Linked DNA regions of Homo sapiens. The protein of the gene in region 1 interacts with the protein of each later gene in a biochemical or structural test. Each region holds a gene or a part of one and is shown on either strand. Other genes may lie near its edges.

What was found.
Region 2: the proteins of MYBPC1 (region 1) and FHL1 form a complex in vitro, tested with the Homo sapiens proteins (one study listed by BioGRID).

What each region holds. Positions count from the first base shown.
Region 1 is NC_000012.12:101,646,906-101,654,729, reverse strand, and holds part of MYBPC1 (myosin-binding protein C, slow-type), read right to left. Parts: exon of another isoform or gene 7,702-7,824; intron 6,686-7,701; coding exon 6,580-6,685; intron 5,471-6,579; coding exon 5,304-5,470; intron 3,915-5,303; exon of another isoform or gene 3,859-3,914; intron 3,500-3,858; coding exon 3,337-3,499; intron 2,053-3,336; coding exon 1,946-2,052; intron 1,616-1,945; coding exon 1,482-1,615; intron 1-1,481. UniProt on the Homo sapiens protein: Thick filament-associated protein located in the crossbridge region of vertebrate striated muscle a bands. Slow skeletal protein that binds to both myosin and actin.
Region 2 is NC_000023.11:136,191,971-136,200,521, forward strand, and holds the start of FHL1 (four and a half LIM domains protein 1), read left to right. Parts: upstream 1-5,076; 5' UTR 5,077-5,142; coding exon 5,143-5,164; intron 5,165-8,551.

The DNA.
Region 1 (7,824 bases):
CCAGTCCACTTCTCTTTAATCCTTTCATATGTTCCTTTCTTGAATCTTGGGTAGTTTCCTCATAAATGTGCACTGATCTTTGCTGAATACTTGAGCGTGTTCCTCTGCAGAGCTCCAGGGGGACTCTCTGTGCAGCTCTCTCCTCCAGTATGTATAGTATGTATCCTATGAACTCTAGCTGCCTTGGTCTCCTTGTACAATGGGAGTCCTAAACTTAGGGAGTCCACTGGGTTCTGTCCAGGTTTTTCTTCCTTGTGCCACTGCCTGGATACTCTTTTATGGCAATAAGCTTGAGGCAATTATAGGGCTTATTTCATTTGTTTATCATATTTCATAGTCATTGTCTTTCACGATCTGATGTCCAATGTCTTGAAACCCATTGTTCACATATTTTGTCTATTTTGGGGGTTATTTCAAGTGAGTAGGTAAATCTGGTTCCTGTTATTCAATTCTGGTTGAAAGTAGAAGTCTCATTCTGCTTTTTATTATTTAATTTTATTTTTAACATTAAAAAAATTTGTTTTGAGATAGAGTCTCACTCTGTCACCCAGCTGGAGTGCAGTGGCGTGATCTCGGCTCACTGCAACCTCTGCCTCCCGGGTTCCAGCAATTCTTGTGCCTCAGCCTCCTGAGTAGCTGGAATTAGAGGCATGCTGCCACCATATTTGGCTAATTTTTTTGTATTTTTAGTAGAGATGGGGTTTCTCCATGCAGGCTCAGGCTGGTCTGGAACTCCTGGCTTCAGGTGTTCTGCCTGCCCCAGCTCCCAAAGTGCTGGGATTACAGGCATGAGCCACCATGCCCAGCCTCATGTCTTCTTTTTAAATGTAATTTTTCTTTTTTTGCTTTTATTTTTGTAGAAAGCCACGGAGTCACACTTGAGCTGGCACTACTCTACCATTTCACCCTCACTTGCATTTCTCCCAATCATTCACTTTGCCCCAGCCATGCTGGCTTTCCTTCTGTTCCTCCAACACATCAGGCTTATTCTCTCCCCTTGGCCTTTGCACTTGTAATTGCCTCCGTATGGAAATGTCTTCCGTTTGATCTTCACATAATGGGTTCCTTGTTCTTCACAGAGGCTGCCATTGACTATGCAGTTACTTGCTATTGTATCATTCTCTTTTATTATCTTCTTGTACTTATTACTATCCAAAGTGACTTTGTTCATTTATTTATTTAATAATTCATTTTCTTTTTCATCCCCCCAATTTCATTAGAATAAAAATGAGGCTTTTTCACTGTGCATCAAAACATGCTTTGCTACATAATAGTCAGAAATATGAGAAGTAAATTAATGATGATCAGATTTGCCTGAAAATCAGTCATCTTTCTTTTTCAAAGGAATTACATCTTTACTGTACTGCTGTACATTTATTTGTTTTCTACCTTCATCTGAATAATGGAGGGCAAGGGGTGGGGTAGGCAGTGTGTCTGCATATGTGTGTGTGCATGTGAGTGTGTGCAAGCATAAAACAAACCTTATCTCCCCGGCTCCACATGGCTTTAGGAGGTGGTTCTCCGCTGATGGGGATCTCAAGACGAAGCTTGTTTCCTGCAATCACTGTCACTGTGTTGTCAGCATCAAGACCATCCAGGATGATCTTAGGAGGATCTAGAATATTAAGCATAGTCTTTGTTATCAGACAGTCATTTCTGTGTAAATATCTGCACTAATGTTTGGCTAGTATGATGGTAGTAACCAATATTTTATCTAATCAAAAAGAATATAAGAGGAGTCAAGATAGTTGGTGCCTGGCACCTTGCAAAACCATTTTATTGTAAGGTGTTGGTATAAGTCACCAATCTTTCTGATTGGTGATTAATACCAATTGATGTATTTTTCCTTAAATGTCACTTAGTTTTGAATATATTATAATTCCATGGTAAGCAAAAGCAAACAAAAAAGAACACAACTATGCAATGAATTATTTTATCTACTCACCAATAACATGAACTTTGGCAGGCAGAGTAACATTGTAGGCATCAGGTGCAAATACATAATCACCTTCATCTTCAGTGAGGGCATTGGCTATCACTAACTTGTGGATCCTAAGGAAACAAGGAAAATGTATTTCTAAGACTCCAAAGATCTAGTTTATATATGACCCAAGCTGAAAAGACACTTGACCTTTATCTGATTAACTTCTTTAGTGCAGGAAAGAGAGGGAGAGAGAGAGAGAAAGAGAGAGAGAGAGAGAGAGGATGAGAAGCCTTAATTATCCTACTTATTGATTCAAATTAAATCTTTATTTTGGACTATATGGAATTATCTCCACAAATAGAATCTGCTTATTGTATATGCAGAGTCTATTATTCTTTTTTTTCATCTCATAGCTTTAAAAAGGCTAAAATAGAACATATCAATAATGCTATACTTTAAGATTCAAGAGATGCCAAGAATAATCTTGATTTTGGCTTTACATCCCAAACCCTAAGAACAATAGCTCTTAACTTTATTGGGGTCACAAACTAGTGAATATCTGATGGACACTATGAATCCTTTCTGTGTAAACAGTATGTATTTTTGTACACATAGAATTTTCTCACAATTTCACAGGAGTTATGGGGCTTCCTAAAGTTCATTTATGATACCCTAAAAGCCCATGAATTCAAAGTTAAACTCTTGCCTTAGATCTTTGCCAGATTCTAGGATATTATGTCCCCTACGCAAATAAAGATTTGTGGGAAGGCATTGTGACACTTATTGGTTAGAGACGGTTAATCCATTTGATCAGGTCCTCAATTAGAATTCAGTATTTTTCCTCTAACTTCATGTTTATTATTTATTTTAGAGACAAGGTCTCTCATTCTGTTTCCCAGGCTGAAATGCAGTGGTGTGATCTCAGCTCACTTCAACCTCCCCCTACTGGGTTCAAGCCATCCTCCCACCTCCCAAGTAGTTGGGATTACAGGTGCATGCCACCACGCCTGGCTAATTTTTGTGTTTTTTGTAGAGATGAGGTTTTGCCATGTAGCCCAGGAGCTCTTGAACTCCTGAGCTCAATTGATCCGTCTGCCTTGGCGTCCCAAAGTGTTGGGATTACAGGCATGAGCCATGGTGCCTGGCCTCTAACTTCATGTTTAAATGGAAAAAGAGTCAATGGATTTTGAATAGACAAAGTACCATAGTGTGAGGTACAGATACAGGATTATGAGTAGGACATGCTATACAACAGAGAAATCACACCTTCTTGCTAGTTGGAAGCGAAGAATCAGGAATAGATGATCTCCCTATGGCTACCCTTCAAATATCCTCACCAAATATGTAATTTAGAAAATGGAGAAAGTAGAAATGGGACCAAACCTCACTTGCGGGTCACCTGGCTCGCTTACCTTCCCTTGTGAACCACCTTTAGACGGTCACTCTCCTGAACAGGTAGGCCATTTTTAGTCCATTTTCCTGGTATGTTTTCAGAGATTTCACACTTCAGGCAGATTTCTTTTCCAAGATTTACAGTCTGATCAGTCAGAGGTGTCAAAATCTTCAGAGGTTTCACTGTAGAAATGATAGACCATCACAAATGCCAAGCCCAAACTCCCAACAGGCCAAGATGGTGGCATTTCACAATGGTATAGTGAGCTCTACTACAATGTTTGTTTTGAAAGTGAGAAGCTGTACCAATGCAATTAATATATTAGAGGATAATTTCACATTTGATTCTGTACAATTTCATTCCTTAGAAAAACTAGGTGAATGCAGAAAATTGCATCCAGCTGAAATGACCCAGCAAGGAATGCACAAAATCTGCAGACTCACACCTCAAACATCTATCAGCTACCTCAGTTCATCCATGTGATATAAGCCACACCCATTTACATCTGAGGTCACAACTACTCATCAGATTTTGAATAATCCTCTTTCTACTGCTTCACAACAGTTCACAAGCCACAACACTTCCAGCATTAATTCTGTAAGCAAATCTCAGGTCTTTTTCAACATTAAGTGCCATATTTATTATATTTATTAACCATTTAGCATGTGTAAAACTGTGCTACTACTTTTTACTGGGTTCTTATATTTTAAAAAATATGTCGCTGACTGATGTGGTTTGGCTGTGCCCTCACCTAAATCTCATCTTGAATTGTAGTTCCTATAATCCTCACATGTCATGGGAGGGACGTGGTGGGAGGTAATTGAATCATGGGGGCGGTTACCCCCCTGCTGCTGTTCTCATGATAGTGACTGAGTTCTCATGAGATCTGACAGTTTTATAAGGGACTTTTGCCATTTTGCTTGGTACTTCTCCTTGCTGCCACCATGTGAAGAAGGACATATTTGCTTTCCCTTCTGCCATGATTGTAAGTTTCCTGAGGTCTCCCCAGCCATGCGGAACTGTGAGTCAACTGAAGCTTTTTCCTTTATAGATTACCCAGTCTTGGGTATGTCTTTATTAGCAGCATGAGAACGGACTAATAAACCAGCAAAATTCTTGAGTGTCATACCCATAATCCCATTTCCCCTACAAACCCTATGGTTTTTACTGCATGACTTTGCATAGCATAATTATTTTTAGAAATGCACATGTTACATCATAGCAGAATGGATTATAATTGCTTTAAATGGATACAAATATCAGATAAGGATCTGTCTATGGCTGAAAGACTTCTTGATGTTAAACTAAAATGGCCACAGATCCATAAAGCATAAGGAATGTATTGGGATTGATCCTGAATAATTCAATGATTATATGAACTGCAACTGGACTAAGCAATAAATGTGGAAGTAAGATTTCTGCTCTTTTTGTGACATCATCTTGAGATATTTGCTGTTTTAATTTTTATGGCAAATTGGGAGAGATTCTGCCATTGCTAACTGACTAGAAGTAGAGGGCATTGAGGGAAGTACATTAATTCTCTCATGCCTCTGAAGCCTACTAGCAAATTAGCTCTTACAATCTTCTCAATTGAGCCCTTTTGGTTTGAATTACTTTCTTCTCATGCCAAATGTAATTGCAGAGTGTTGAATGGTTATTTGATGAATAGCTAGCTAACATTATCAGGATATGACATCGTATCTAAGTATTTATCCCCTATTTTTACGGTCTTGGAATTATAACTCTTCTGGCAGGTGATTTTTATACTTCCTTCCTAATATTGGCGCTCTACTATTAAATTGAGTCGTGGTTCCTTCCTTAAATATCCTGATTGATCTGACATAGACACTTAGCTGGAATGAAATCCATTTTACATACTTAAAAATCATCGCAAATAGAAATCAAATAGAAACTTTTCTGAAACCGAATTAACACAACCATCATTAATAAGCCCACTGAGAAGACATCTAAAGAAGTCTCACTTACAGTCAACACTAAGTTTAGCAGATGATTGTCCTCCTGTTGTCATTACTGAATATTCTGCAGCATCAGCCTTTGTTGCTCCCTCTATGATCAAGATGTGTTTTTTACCCTCAACTCTAATTCGGTATCTTGATTTTGGACCAGGGATAATCTCTTCACCATTCTTAAACCTGAATTAAGATAAAATATTAAAAAGGTTTGTAAAAGATCCTTCAGGAAAAATACCTTGTCCATCTTGCTTATTGCAATATCCTGAAGAATTTCTGGAGGATATGAGACACACAAGAACTATTTGTTGAATTAAAAAATGTACGAATCAATCTCTGTATCCATCAGTAGATTCATAATGTAACAAATATTGTCTACAAAATTGTGTTAAAAGAACACGAGCCACCTGCTCGCACTCAAGATGAATCAGGTGCAACTGCTAAGAGTGGATATTACCCCCATGTAGGCTCTTGAAGCACATTAGTAAGAATATCATTTAATGCATTTTAAAGATAACTATGATTCTCTATTAGAATGAACAATCTACACTGTACCAATTACTACAAATCCTGCTGTGTAATTTACTGTACCTTTCAACATAACATTTCATTTTAAGATTTAAAATTTCTAGTTTTTAATTTTAAGATTACTCACAAGGAACCTGAGAAAACATTCCCCACCTGAGCAAAACAAATAAACTCTTATTTCTAAAAGCAATTGGTGATTCTCAGTCTAAATTTTTTTCCCCTGAGGTACTATGAAAATAAAGTGACTAGGGGTTACATGAAAAACACATGTAAATATGTACTTAAAAATCATTGCAAATAGAAATCAAATAGAAACTTTTCTAAAACCGAATTAACACAACTATCATTAGTAAGCCCACTTAGAAGACATCTAAAGAAGTCTTACTAAACTTACTAAACACTAAATATGTTTTTTCATGTAAGTTGCCAATATGGCATAGTGAGAGGAAGCCTGCTATAAAGGTTAAGAGCATCCATAGGCTTTGGGGTCAAATAGACTTGGGTAAACTTGAGTCATCCACTTAGTATTAAGTACCCACTTCCCTACGTGCTTACCCACATAGATCTCTGGTTCTTTTTTCAGTCTCATGAGTGGAAAAACCCCAGTATATTAGTATACTTTTATTTATCATCTCTACTAACACAAATGAGGTGGAGATTGTTTTCAAAGGTTTAAAAGCTATTTGTACTTCCTGTTCTATCAACTATGAAGGTCCAATTTTTTTGTCTATTAAACATGGACAGACTTCATTAAGGCTATTTACCATTTTACATTGGCATCATCTTCAGACACCTCACATTCTAATTCCACTCTCTCCCCACAATAAGCAGTTGTATCTTCCAGCTGTTTGGTCACCATAATTGGAGGCTCTAGTATACAAAAAGGGGAAATCAGAATCATTAAATATCCAAAGCCTATCCCATGAGCCCTGATTTCTTCACAGATGAAAAACCAACAGTGAGAAAGCAACATCTATGGTTGACATGGTGATAACAGTAAGTGAGGTTTTTGTTTTTGTTCTTGTTTTGAGACAGAGTCTCACTCTGCTGTCCAGGCTGAGGTGTAGTGGCGTGATCTTGGCTTAATGTAACCTCCACCCCCTAGGTTCAAGCAATTCTCCTGCCTCAGCCTCCTGAGTAGCTGGGATTACAGGTGCATGCCACTACACCCAACTAATTTTTGCATTTGCAGTAGAGACGAGATTTTACCACATTGGCCAGGCTGGTCTTGAACTCCTGATCTCAAGTGATCACGTGCCTTGGCCTCCCAAAGTGCTGGTATTATAGACATGAGCCACTGTGGCTGTCTGTGAGTTTTGTTTTGTTTTGTTTTGTTTTCTATGTCTGTTCTTGGCAAAATAAATAGCAGGCAACCCTGGGTAAATTCTCCCAATTTTTTCACAGTTCTCCAAGTCAAATCAATTATTGTTCTCAAGAACAAACAAAACATATATCAAATATTATTCTTTTAGCAAAGAAGATACTAAATGCTAGACATTTCTGATGAAGGAGAATATATAAAACTCAAATCTTTGATCCTAGTTCCAGATGGATGACAGAGATCTCAGGGTTGTCTGTCATCAGAAGCCCTCATAAAGAAAATAAGGAAGACATGGCTGTATTCACACCCTCCAGCTCTTTTCACAATGTCTTAGTAAATGATAATTTTCAGTGTGCTTGGTACCAACCACTTATTAATGAAGCTGGTTTCAAGAGAAACCTATTTGTGATCAATTGAGTGTGTGAAACAAGGATTATCCAGTAAAATCTGTTGGGTTTCAAAGCTATAACTAGAATAATTATTTTTGCAAGATAGTGCTTGGCTTGAGTCAAAACATGAGGCATTTGTACTCAACAGGTTCTCTTTCTCCCCTCTGCTGTTCTAGTCTTCAACAAACCAGAAGACTCATTAGGATCCATAATAGCTGCCAGTGTAGAGGAGCCTCAGTTACTTTCACTTTGATCATTATCCCTGGGAGAAGAAGCCAACAGCTCCTGGTGACCACAAT
Region 2 (8,551 bases), on another chromosome or scaffold:
TGGCAATATGGAAATAAAACAGATATGTCACAAGTAGGTGGTAGAAATAAACTGGAAGAGAATTTTAACATCTAAAATGTGACAAAGATTTATCCTTACCAGCTTCTCAGTTTCCTGAAACATTTATTTTCCTTTGATTTTAGATTCTGTATTTATGTTATATATCTCTTTCTAAAACATTTTCTTGTTTCTGTTTTCTTTACTTCTTTTACTTTTTTGCCACTTCTGTTTTTTGAAAAATATCATCCTAGGCATGCTCTGAAAGTCATTTGTTCGGTGTTTTCCTGATAGTGATTTCTGGTTATAGGCCCATAAAGTATCTGTAGGATGTGGTTAGGATAGTTCCTACCTCTTGGTAAAAGTCTAGTAGTAACACAGGAAGGGCACAGACTTTGGGGACAAGAGACATTTAAAACTGTTACTGATCATGACATTACCAAAAATCAAAAGACAGGGGCCATGGCTCATGCTTCGTAATCTCTCTGTGAATATTATAAGGAAAATTCTAAGCCCTGGTCAACTGTGAAATGAACAGGTCTTCAGTGGAGTTAATTAGCATTTTCCAGGTGCTTTGCTGTTTACAGTGTCCTTTATTTCATGTATCTTCTCATTTGTTACAGGTCTTCTTTCATACCTTTTCCTTTTCTCTGAGATTCAGAGACCCTTTGGGGAGGCTGAATTTCAGGTTTGTTTTCATTAGGACCTTACATGACCAAATCCCCCCTCTTGGGGTTCCAGGGGTGCTCCTTCATTTTACTCTCTGATGGGTATGCCATGAATTGTGACATTTAAGCAGTGACTTTGCAAAATTGGACGTGTCAGTAGGAAAAAGTACTCTTCCCACCTTAAAGATTGACAGGAACATGAGATGGCTGAAGCTGTTCTGAGCTTTTTTCTGGCAAGAGTACATAGGACAAGAAATACTCTGGAGAGCTCAACATTGAATCACATCATATCATAGTGCATGACTAGTTGCCTTAATCTTGCAGTTGGACTCACTCAGGAGAAATTGTTGGCAGAGGGATTAAGTAGCCTGACAAAATTATATTGAGAAAAAAACTTGCAGTCTATTAATTTATTAGTAGTAGATATGAGGGAAAGAAGAGTCATGTAAAAAAAAAAAAAAACAACTGGACATGAAACCACGGAGAAATCCACAAAGACTCCATTACAGTTTGTTATCAGCCTCTTGCCCCTGGCCATGACTAATGGCCAGTAATTGTCTGAATAAGTTTTTAACCATTTGGAAATTTCTTCAGGAAAAGAAAAATCTAGTAAAGGGAGAAGGGTGACCACAAGTCAAGCTGTGAATGAGGAAGTCCTGAAATGTGGGCTAAGTGGGTCACTGAATTTGCCGTGTTTGATTCTTCGGTTGCACCACTTTGAACTTTTGAAGTTTGATCCTCCCAGTGGTGTTTCTGAGGTAGAGAGGCTAGGATTAGATTGCAGTGTGAGAAATCCCACAAACGTGATTCTACTGTAATCTTACTGTTCTCTCTCGCTCCTTGATAACTGGGATCCCATTAAAGGGGGTTCATTATTGACATCTCAGAAGAAACTCATTGTGAAGTCTAAAATAAAGTGCCATTCTTCCCTACACCAGCTCTGCCTCCCATATTCCCCATTATTTTCCCAGTCACCCAGAGTCACAACCTCAGAGAGATCCTTGGCTCCTTCCCCTTCTTTCAGTTCTTGTAGCCCTGTCACAGTGTCCCTTATATCTAGTTTTTCCTTTCCATGCCCATTGCCCCTGCCTCTCATTCTTTCAGTCTTTCCTTGCATCTCAGTGGACAATTGCATTACCCTGTGCTGTCTTCCCTGCCTCCTCTCTTCTCTGAGATCTGCTCTTCTTATCACTGCTTGCATGACTCCATCTCATTCTCCCCTTGCACCAGTTGCAGAAAGATCCTCCGTGTGTGGCTTTCCCTCCTCTCTAGCTTTCGGTCCTACTACTTCCTTATCTTGTGCTTCTGTCACACCCCAACCCCCCCCAGCTGCATCCTGCTTCTTGAACACGTCCTGTGTTTTTCTCATACCTTAGGTGACATGGTACCATTTTCTTGGAACACTCCCTCCCCCTTGTCTGCATGCCAAAGTCTTAATCATTCTTCAGGGACCAGGTCAAATGCCGTGACATCCATCAAGTCTTTTCTCATCTCCAAACCAGATGTGATCTCTCCCTGTGATAAATGTCAGTAACACTTTATACCTTTCTTGTAATACTTGTAAGGCTCTGCCTTGCATAGTAGTCATTTGCATATTTATCTTGTTACACTTGAAAGTAAGGACTGTATTTTATTCTTTGTGACCAGTAAAATACCTTGCACCACATAGTAGGGCATCTGTCCAATAAATGCTTGTCATATACAATAAAGCAATGGCTGGGGCGGCATTATCTACAGGTTAACCCAATAATAGGTCATAATGTATCTGCAGATAGTAGGACCATAAGGATGTGTAGATAAACCCTGAAGTAAATGATTCGCAGAGGGTCACATGGAAGGGAAACAGGGAGTTTGATACCTAGCACTCACTGAAAAAAGCGTCCGGATACTGCTAGAGTGTGAGACTAGAAGGCCTGAAATGTAACCATCATACACCAAAGAGAGTTGCTCCCAAACACCAGCCAACTCCACCAATAGTATATAAAGGTGCGTTGTAAACAGTACAGTGATTCTTAAAGATATTATTAAACATCATACTGTTAATATATAACAAGATTGACTAATATGCCAATGAAACCCGTGACTCCAGGTACCTGTGAAATAGCCAGCAAGGGTTCTGAGCCACTGATCCAAGACAGGACAAAGTTACCAACTATTCTTCCTAAGAAATTGTTTCTCATCATGCAAGGGGCTGTTTCTGTCTTGGTTTTGTGGAAGGTCTAATTCTGTGGCTTGAGGACATCTGCAGTAGGGCCAGATGTCAGAGCAGGTAGTGGTCATGCTTCATGAAGTTTTTAGGAGGGCACAGTTACCTGGTTGATGCAAATGGAAGTAACTGGAATAAATGCTATTGTTGCAGGCCCAAGCTCCCAGTCCATCCTGGCTGGTCATAGTTGACTAATTCATGGTGGTCAAAAAGTGATTCTCTTGTCTTTGAATTTTCTCTTGTATTTTAGGCAAAACAGATTTGTTTTTTGATACTTTCATAAAGCTGTCTATCCATATTCTGTTGTCACTTTTCAAAATGATCAGAAACCTAAAGAACTACCATACTTGCCTAAAAGAAGACACTTCCTGATGCATAGCTTGAAACAGGAATTGACTTCCTAAAGGAAAGTATTTGGCACACCAAGCCTATTGTTCACAGCGCTGCAAGAGAGGCATTTCAACATACATGGGCTCTTCCTAAAAATATAACTTGCTAAAATAAAAAATTCAGGGTTCATTAAGGTTAATCATCTAATAAAGTAAGAGAATTTCCTCTAGGTGAAAAGTTTCAGTTTATTTTAGGGGTGTGGTGTTGTTACAACTGGCTAATCTCCGCACCATAATTTAATCAGGCTGGATGAGAAAGAGACTAGAAAGGCGTGGAGCCAGAGCACAGTGTAGCTTCTCTTCTTTTCCCAGGCTTATTTTTTTCCTCTAACATGTAATAAATTTACTCGTAACAACCTGGCTTTTATTGTGTCATTTTCTAGCTAACTGGGAGTTACTGATGTCAGTTGTCTTTTAGAATAACTTTTCCTTAAACATTTGAAGATCGTAAGAATTGGGGAACTCATTCATTCATTTATTCATGGAGCATTTACTGCTCACCTACTGTGTGCTATAGGAACATGAAGACAAGCAAAGCACTGCCCTGGCCCTCAACCTGGTAGGGGAGATGTGTGAATAGGGCCAAAACCACTTAAACAAGACAGTGGCTATAAAGGTGTCTGTACCAGCGAGAAGGTCAGCTGCCTTCCTTGAAGTTGAGTGGCCAAAACCACTTTCAGGATTGCAGGTGGGACTATGTTTTGGAGGCTTGATGGATTTTTCAGTTATTTAGTTCATTCTTTCAAGGAATAGTTATTGAGAGCCTCCTGGGAGCTGGGCAGTGTTCTAGGCTCTGGGGCCACTGCAGTGAGCTCCAGTACTAAATCCCTGCCTTCATGGAGCAAAGCAGGAGATCAGACAGCAAGGAGAGAAATCAGTGCAATACCAGCAGACTTGAAGTAGGGAAAGGAACAACCATGACTCTGGGCACAGGGGACAGTGAGGAGGCCAGTGAGGTGGGAGTGAGGGAAAGGGGGCTAAGGGTAAGGCCAGAGAAGGAATGTGGAAGAAGGTCCTGGAGGGACTTGGGGGCTTTCTTTTCCTAGAACATGCTCCTAATAGCCAGCCCCCAGACATCTGATGGCCTGTTGAGCTATTACAACATTTTAGGTTGATGTCTTCATTTTCATTCATGTTTTTCCTTTTATTGTCCCTGATGCTGAAAAACAAGAGGTTGAGTTTGTGAGACAAAATGTCTTCATTGTGTGTGTGATGGGGATAGGCATAGTCTCCCCATCTTGTTCTGTGCTGTCTGCCGTTAAGGAGGTGGGGAGATTACGATCACTCTCCTTTCCTGTACAGTAATCTGCTGATCTCTGGAACATACTAAGGAGGACATAGAGTGACAACATCTATAATCCCCTTAATCTCTATATTCATACTGTCTAATCTCCTTGAGTTACACTGGTAACATAAGTCTATCTCTTAGAGTTACTTTTATCATTAACAGCACAAAAATGTATTATTTACAGGGCCAAATGCAAGCTCTTGAGGCATATAAAGTGGATTAATAAGGTTGGCTCAGCGTTAAGCTATGCCAGAGCCGAGTCCAAATTTTATTCCGGTACAGGGATGACTTTCTATGTGGCCTCTCTGGCTCTGGAGCTAATTTGGATGCTGAGTAGCCCCGCAGGTATTTATATGTAGCGTTTGGTATTTTTACTGGGTCCTATTCTTCTCCCTTGGATCACCTAAAATGGTTAAGAATTTTCTAGTGGGATTAAGGTTGTGATCTCTGGGGAGGGGTGGGACATCTGCTCTCGGTTATTTTTGTGTTAGCCGCTTCCCCTTAAATGTATGTTCACAAATGAGCCACAGCCTTATCAGCTGGGGTTGAGGGAAGACTGGTCTAGGTGCTGCTCCTGAACTTGGTCTCTGAGCCATGGCTTCCCATAGACACTCAGGTAAAACTTCATGCTCTTTATCTTATATTGAGCACAGTTTTGTTAGGGCAGTGAATCCGTCATTGGGCTAAAAGATGGTTTTTGATGAAATGATTTTAGTCTTGTCTGAATAGTAAATAAATTATAGCTTGTCTCTGTTTTGCCTTTGCCTTTCATGCTATTTCAAAGACAAAATATTGTTCAAGTACAATGAACAGTTTGAGTGATTTATTTTAAAAAGAAGTATATAAACATGTTACCACTATATTTTTACCTTTTTCAGGACATCTCATGAAACTATAAGAGATTGTGGGAGGAAAGGTTTTTCTGGTTAGGAATTTTTGGCTTTCTTTTTTATAAGATACAATTCTTCATCTTGACAGTGCTTTACATCCAAGGTGTTTGGAGAAGGTAAATCGAATGTGGAGCTGAAAGGAGGAACATTTGTAACTAAGAAAGTCCATAATGACCTAGCACATCTTCCCTTTTGCTGACAATGTTTTAAATCTTCCCGAAGTAACAGCTATGTTCCTTTTGATATGCTAAGTATGTTATTAATTGTTTTTAGCAGAAAAAGGGGCACATTTTGGACTCCTTGGGACATGAGCATTTTCTTCTGGTTTTGTAACCTTACAATTAAGGAAGCCCTTTGGCCATCGACAAGAAATCTATGAACTAGGGGCTGAGGGGCCAAAAGCCCAGTTATTTGAAGCCAGGAGGGTGGCTGTGGCCCTGTGGCCCTCTGCCTAAGTAACGGTTCCCTTTCTTGGGGCTGGTAAAGTCAGACGGTTAGATATAAAGAAGGCACTTCATCCTGTCTCCCAGCTTTCAGATTAAGGGATGTCATTATCTATGTTTTTTTTTTTTTTTGAAAAATCATTTTTTAAAACTCATTGCCTGTCAATATTTAAACAATGGAAATACTTTAGGAAATTTCTCTTTTTGGGGTTTTAAATATGCTGCAATGGAATGCCCTACCTTAATGAATTAATATGTAATGTCTTCCCTGTTCCCAAGTGTTCAAAAGTTGTCTGGTTTTTTTTTTTTTCCAACCCTCAGGAGCTGTTTCACAAACATGGTACCAAATGCTTGAGATTGTGGTTATCAGCCAAGATACACATTCTCTGGGTGTAGGCAAACTAGTCAGCTGTGCTAGTTGTCCTGATGAACCTTAAATGCATGTTACCTGGTAGAATAACTCTCATTTTGTTTACTAATTAAGTGACAGAATAGTGACAGAAAGTTTAAAAGTTTAAATAGTGACAGAAAGTTTATAGCATACCCAACCTTGGGTTTTAAATTGCACCAAATTCTTATGTCGTTCTTGTGTATGTAAGTCTGGAGGCTCTAATAACTGTGGCTAAATGGGACCAATTATTTATACCTTTTAGATGATTTTTGAATTCAGGAAATTGCATTTTGTATTGCATTAGGTTAATAGATTCATGAAAGCAGAGAAGAATCAGTCCATGAGACAGAGAAGTCCTCATAGAAAATCAGTGTTGCCCTGAAACGGGCTCAGTATGGGCAAAATAGAAGCTAGGATAATTGGATCCAAATCCATTTTTAGTGACTATCCATATACTGAGAGGACATTTCAAGGACAAAAACAATGTATACTCTTGACATTGAAGACTTTCTGTCTGCAAAATTATGTAGATTCAATTTCTTTAGCCTTTGGCCTTTCAAGTCGAAAACCAGGTTTGGGGTGTGGAGGGGGATCAGGTCACTTGCCATATTACACAGCCATCGATTCCCTTCACCAGCTGCTGCTCAGTGGGCCGCACAAGCCCGCCAGTCTTTTCTCAGGGCAGGGATGGAAAATGAGAGGGTAGGATGAGAGGAAAGTAATCCAACTGGATTGGCTTCTTAAAATACAGAAGATTTGAGTGAGAGTGAAACTGAACATTTTGTGCTTTTGATGACCACCAAATGACTACCTACTACTTCACCACAGCTGGAGAAACTAAAAACACATGCTCTTTTGCTGCCGGGTCAGAAATGCTTTTTTTCCCATATGAAAGAGGGGCTGTGTTGCACGTAATCTGTGCAACATTATGAAAAATCTTCATATACAGACAAAATGGTACTAGAATTGAATCTGGACTGCAGGAAGTTCAGTGGCACATAATTTTTCTTTTAATAATCTATATCGAACCCTCCTGACACCCGATATAATCTAAAATGGCATTAGTTATACATCAGTGACCCAAAAAAGATTTGTTTTTTTTCTAAATGCAGCATACCAGTGAAGTTGCTAATTACATTGAATCATTCTGTACACGTTCTATTTTGAAGGGAAAAAACACTTTCTGATTTTTGTATGAAATTGTATGAAAGACTACTTTTCAGCCGTGACTCATGAGCTCCGTCTCATTGCAGCTACTTAGGTATTTATTCCCAAATGTCTGACGACACCTCCAGGTGCATTAGCATGTCTATTACACAAGTGTCCTATTCATTGGCTAAGGCTTTGCTCCATCTGTTGAATGTTCTGAGGAAAGCATTATACCCTTTCTTTAGAAGCCAGTGTTTATATGTGGAGTCACTAATGTACTGGTAGGTTGGATTTAGTGAAGAACAGATCTGAAATAACCTGATTTTTTTCCATTTGGGTTGTTGTTCATTGTTTACACTGTACATTACACCCTTCATGGAAAACACATAGAAAAATGCTACCTACTCATGATATTCACATTCTCCTTAAATATTCATAGTTTGAGCAACTCAGGCATGAGGGAGAAGATGAACAATAGGAAGAAATACATGAGAAAATACATGTAAAAACACAAGCAAGATTTATTAAATACAAATCGACTGTAATGAGAGGTTTATAGTAAAAAAGAAAAAAGAAAAAAACAAATGTTGTAATGTTATATTACTTGTATGTGTACATGATTAAATTGAAAGCCAAAACTTTTAATTAAGATACTGAGGTTTATTTAGGCACCTCTCAGCATGTTGGATGTAGTTCAAGAATTTTCTGAAAAAGGAAGCTTGTTTATTAAGTGAAAATGATGTGTCTTTTGAAGCAGGCATAGAAAGTCAGGCTACCCTTTTGGAATAAATGTCTAAAATTTTATCACCCAGCCACATTTCTAACTGTATTCTAAGCTTGTAAAACTTTAATTTAGTTAATTTTTAATTAAATTATTTAATAATGATGCTTTCTGTCTTAGAAAATCAGGGGACATTTATGTGGACCTAAGGTGTAGGTTAGACTTCAGCACCTTACACGTCATATAAGATGATTTTTAAAATCAGGAAATAGTATGTCATATTGCATTAGGTTCATAAGTCCATGAAAGCAGAGGAGAATAGGCCCAAGAAAGAAGTCCTTACAGAAAGGAAATCAGTGTGGTCCTGAAATAGGGTTGGTATGGACAAAATAGAGGCTCAGATAATTGG